Linked DNA regions of Homo sapiens: region 1 is linked to region 2. The links come from fine-mapping of genetic effects on gene expression. Tissue or cell type: esophagus mucosa. Region 2 holds a variant in brackets; the other region holds the start of a gene. All regions are shown on one strand. Distances are from middle to middle.

Evidence for each region. PIP is the estimated chance that this variant, and not a neighbour inherited with it, causes the effect.
Region 1: it holds the start of KLK13, and the variant in region 2 is fine-mapped to the expression of KLK13 in esophagus mucosa (GTEx, PIP above 0.99).

Annotation. Positions count from the first base shown.
Region 1 is chr19:51,063,792-51,066,399 of GRCh38, reverse strand. KLK13 (kallikrein related peptidase 13) reads left to right here and starts at 1,308. Exons shown (of 5, transcript NM_015596.3): 1 at 1,308-1,384. The coding sequence starts at 1,333.
Region 2 is chr19:51,033,821-51,036,575 of GRCh38, reverse strand. KLK12 (kallikrein related peptidase 12) reads left to right here and starts at 1,574. Exons shown (of 6, transcript NM_001370125.1): 1 at 1,574-1,770; 2 at 1,936-1,991; 3 at 2,437-2,596. The coding sequence starts at 1,955. The variant C/A (reference allele first, on the strand shown) is at 1,271.

The DNA of each region.
Region 1 (2,608 bases), 30 kb before region 2:
AGGCCATTTCTGGAAAATGTTGCTTTCTCAGGTCGCATCTCTGCCCCCATCCAAGTCCGAGGGAGCTGATTTTCTATCCACCCAGCTGATGATTTCCTTCTTGTGTCCGGTGGTTGGCGGGAGCAGGGAGGCAGGATGATGGGATAATTGTGGGTGTCCTTGTGTCTTTCAAAAGAAAAAGGGTTGAGATGAGACTGGGAATTGGAACCTGGATGTGTTGAGAGCTAAACCTGAGATGAGGTTGGAGATGGGACTGGGGTTGAGGAACAGGCTGGAGTACTTGGTATGGTTAGGGATGGATAGGGAGGTGGGAATCTGATAGAACACGGCCATCTGGGGGCTGACTGCCTATTAAGAATTATGCATGGGGTTGGAGAAGAGGTTAGAAAACTGGGTGCAGAATGGGTTGAAGTTAGGGATGGGCATGGAACTCAGCGGGGTAGGGGGAAGGAAATGGGCTTTCCCCTTACCCTTTTTTGGGTCCTGAGGCCTGAAAGTTCACAGTGGGTTCAACTCTGCCTTGGGCGGGGTCAGACCTAGGTCCCAGCACGTCCTGGAAGCTCCGCCCCAAGCAGAGGGCCAAGCCCAGGTCGGGGGTGCCTGGAGACATCCCGCTGAGCCACTGGGGGTGGAGAGGGGGAGGCCAGGGACCAGGAAATGCTGAGTGAGCTGGGGGAGGGAGTTCAGGGGTTAAAAGCCATGGTTCGGGGCTGAAGTTCTAGACAGCTGGCGGCTGACGCTCCTCGTGGGCCCCTCACTCAGGTAGGGTCTGCCTGGGGCGGGGGCGGGGAGCGGAGGAGGGCAGGGAGGGGAGAGAAGAGGGGATAGGAAGGATGGGGAAAGCAGAAGGGCAGCTGAGTCAGGGAGAGGGAGAGTGAAGCTAGAGTCTCAGATCTAGAGAGAAACCTGCAGAGACGGAGAGAGGCGAAGGGCGCGGACAGATAAGAACTTGGGCTAATACCAAGCGTGTGGACAGACCCAGAGGGGTAGAATGGAAGGCAGACTCTGGAGGAAAAGGGCGAGAGTGCACCGACCACCCAGCTCGCCAGAGGGCAGGGGAGGAGGGACGGCTTCCTGGGGTGAGGGGCTGCACGCCGGAGCCCCAGGAGGTTGCACACTGTTCCTCCCACCTCGCCACTGCACCCCCACCAAGGATGGAATTGGAGGCGGGGGGCAGATTCCAGGGTCAGGGCTGTCAAGAGTGAATGAGGCGAGGAGACATTCAGGAGCAGAGAGGTTTCAGACGCGGAGGTTCCGGGCACGCCCTCAACACCCCCTTCACCTTCTCCTCAGGCCCCGCCCGCCCTGCCCTCCCCTCCCGATCCCGGAGCCATGTGGCCCCTGGCCCTAGTGATCGCCTCCCTGACCTTGGCCTTGTCAGGAGGTAAGAATGCGCGGGGGTGGAGGCGCGGCGGCCATTCGGGACAATGGTAGGAGGGGTCAGGCCGGAGGGGGAGGGGGCGTGGGAGCCGCGAGCTCCGCCCCCCGCCCACTCGGGGCCGGGTCCAGTGGGGACAGCTCAGAGCTCTTCCTGCTTGTCCCTGGGTGACCTGGTTTCCCGGCTGAGGTTGGCCCTCCGACCCCAGACCCTTCACCTCCCAAAATACCCTCGCAGCAGCCCCTCCCGCGTTCAAGGCTTCCTGTCCTCTCTGGAAAGCTGAAAGACATGGGTTCGCGTCCTGACGCTGCCGCTTTGAGCCAGTAGCCTAGCAGCTGCTTTGTGCCTAAATTGTTTTCATCTGGAAAATGGGCTTAATCTATAAGTGCTTACCAGAGAAGGTCACTGTGAATATTGAAACGAGGTAATGCGTCGAGCCTTCAGTATGTCGCAGGTAGAAGGGACTTGAAAGTTAGCCACTTAGCCGTTATTACTTTATTAGTAGTATTCCTTTTTTTTTTTTTTTTTTTTTTTGAGATGGAACCTTGCTCTGTCTCCCAGGCTGGAAGGCAGTGGCACGATCTTGGCTTACTGAAACCTCCGCCTCCCGGGTTGAAGCGATTCTCCTGCCTCAGCCTCCCGAGTAGCTGGGATTACAGGCGCCCGCCACCACGCCCAACTAATTTTTGTATTTTCAGCAGAGACGGGGTTTCGCCATGTTGGTTAGGCTGGTCTCGAACTTCTAACTTCAAGTAGCCCGCGTCAGCCTCCCAAAGTGCCAGGATTACAGGCATGAGCCACCGAGCCCGGCCTCTAGTATTCTGTCTTCATACTCAGCCCCTTCCAGAACCTTCTAGATTGTTATTTTAATCCTTGGGTTGACCCCAAACCTATGTGACCTCACCCCAAATTGGTAGTCCTTAAGATCCTTATGGATCTTTCCCATCTTTCCCTGCCGTTGTAGGCAGGTTCTCTGGAAACCCCGTTCATGAATCATTTATTCATTCAACAAACAGCTATTAAACACCGGCCACTGTGCTGGGTGCTGTACAAGCAGAGACACAGTCCCTGCTCTCAGCACCTGGAGTCTAGCGGGGACAGACGCAGATGTTATTCAAACAATTATCCAAATAATTAGTTAATAATTATCTTGACATGAGGTGAAGACTTCAAGGAGCCAAGCCAGGGGCCTAGAGATGTAATGGCGGCTTCCCGACCAGAGGCCTTCCC
Region 2 (2,755 bases):
GTGATTCTGAAAATGAGACACGGACAGAGACTGGAGACCCAGAGAGAAAGTGAAGGACTAAAAGACAGTCATAGGGTGGGAGTTTGCTCTCCTCTGTTTTGTTCTGGGTTTTTTTGTTTGTTTGTGCGCTCTGTCTGACCGCTTTTCTTTTTTTTCTTTTTCTTTCTTTTTTTTTTTTTTTTTTTTGAGATGGAGTCTTGCTCTGCCGCCCAGGCTGGAGTGCGGTGGCACAATCTCGGCTCACTGCAAGCTCCGCCTCCCACGTTCAAGGGATTCTCCTGCCTCAGCCTCCCGAGCAGCTGGGATTACAGGCATGCACCACCACACTCAGCTAATTTTTGTATTTTTAGTAGAGATGGGGTTTCACCATATTGACCAGGCTGGTCTTGAACTCCTGGCGTCAAGTGACTTGCCCGCCTCGGCCTCCCAAAGTGTTGGGATTACAGGCGTGAGCCACCGCGCCTGGCCCTGACTGCTTTTCTCTTGGTTTGTTTCTCAATCCCCCTTCCTCTGAGCCGAATTCCCTTTTTGTTCTCATTTTCTCTCTCTGTCCCCTCTCTCTCTCCTTCTTTCTCTCCTTCCATTCCTCCTAGATGAAGCAAAAACTCAGATAAACCAGCACAGAGGCCAGGTATGGTGGCTCACACCTGTAATCCCGGCACTTTGGGAAGCCAAGGCAGGCAGGTTGCTTGAGGCCAGGAGTTCAAGACCAGCCTGGCCCACATGGTGAAACCCCGTCTCTACTAAAAATACAAAAATTAGCCGGACATGGTGGCACGTGCCTGTAATCCCAGGTACTCAAGAGGTGGAGGTTGCAGTGAGCGGAGATCACAGCCCTGCACTCCAGCCTGGGTGACAGAGCGAGACTCCATCTCAAAACGAAAAACAAAAAACAGCACAAAGTTCCCTTGTCCTGTGACTCATTCTCTCTCTCTCTTTCTACCATTTCTCCTTCCCTGTGTCTTTTTTTTTTCTCTCTGTGGGTTTTATTTAAGCAATAGAAGTTCTTAGCAAAGAAAAACTTTATGGAATTAGATTGATCCACTTCATATGTACATATATGAACTCAGTTCAGAAACTCTCTTCTACCCCTGCCTGATCACCTATTTGGAAGTCTGTTCCTTCAACTCTTCTTCTCTTTCTGGGACTCTTTCTAGCTTGGGCTTCCTGCCCCTCCCGTCCACTCTCCTGCTTTCACAGCCTCTCCTTCCCCCTGCCCCTCCCCTGCACTGCATGGGGATGGGCCCCAGGTGTCCAAGGTCTCCCCACC[C/A]TCCTTTGTCACTGGAGTCAGGATTAGAACCCAGCTCCCTAGTCACCTTGAGTCATCAGTCCTGGGGCTGCTGACGGGCTTGCAGAGGAGAGAGGGAGTGGGGCTGGGTCTTCCCACCCTGGGTCCTTTCCTCCTTCCCCACTCCGTTTAGCTGTAAAGCTCAATTAAGTGTGATTAGCTGAGAAGAGTTTCTGCAGAATTAGAGCACGCCCCACCCCTGTCTTCGTGGTCCCCTTCCCTTAACCCGGAAACTGGATGGGCCAGGACAAAGAGAGTTAAGAGCTTTGTCAGTGGTCTGTCTGGAGCGACAGATGGAAGGAAAGGGACCGGTTGAGCAACATGACAGGTGGCTGAGGAGCCAGGTGCAGAGTGGTAGAGTTGGCTGGCGGAGTGGCCAGCACATGAGAAGACAGGCAGGTAGGTGGACGGAGAGATAGCAGCGACGAGGACAGGCCAAACAGTGACAGCCACGTAGAGGATCTGGCAGACAAAGAGACAAGGTGAGAAGGAGGTAGGCGACTGCCAATGAGGGAGTGACACACAGGGGAGCAGGTAGAGAGAGGACAAGCAGGTCATCCCCTTGGTGACCTTCAAAGAGAAGCAGAGAGGGCAGAGGTGGGGGGCACAGGGAAAGGGTGACCTCTGAGATTCCCCTTTTCCCCCAGACTTTGGAAGTGACCCACCATGGGGCTCAGCATCTTTTTGCTCCTGTGTGTTCTTGGTGAGTTCTCCCGGAGCAGGGAGAGGGCAGGACTGCGACTGGATCCCTTCACCCCCATGAGGAGGCCCCACCACCCTCCCCATCTCAGCTCTGGCCCCCAGCCTGGTGGTGAGGAGGAGAGGGGCTTTCTCTGTGCCTCCATTTACCTGCAGCTCTCAGGGTACTGCTCACCTCGGTCTCCCCTATTTTTTGATCCCTCTTCCCTTCTGTCCCTCTCTGAATCTCTGTCTCTCCATTTCCCTCCTATGTGTAAGCATCTTTCTCCCTGGGTGTCTTTGATGTTTCATGGTCTTTTTCTATCACTGGGTCTCTCTCTCTTTCTCTCTCTTTCTCGTCTCTCTTTCTCCTCTCTCTCTCCTGCCTGTTTCTCTCTCTCACTCTGTGTGTCTCTCCATCTCTGTATCTTTTCTTCCTCTCTCTGACCCATGCCCCTGTCTGTCTCCAGGGCTCAGCCAGGCAGCCACACCGAAGATTTTCAATGGCACTGAGTGTGGGCGTAACTCACAGCCGTGGCAGGTGGGGCTGTTTGAGGGCACCAGCCTGCGCTGCGGGGGTGTCCTTATTGACCACAGGTGGGTCCTCACAGCGGCTCACTGCAGCGGCAGGTAAGTCCCTTCCTGGGGTGGGCGAAGGGAGGACTATGGGAAGGCAAGCGCTGGGGGTAGGATCACAAGGGAGGGTGGTGCCCACTGGGAAGAAGCTGATCCTGCAACAAGAGAGTCTGAGGTTAGACCAGGAGTGGAACTTCCTTAGCAGTGGGCCTG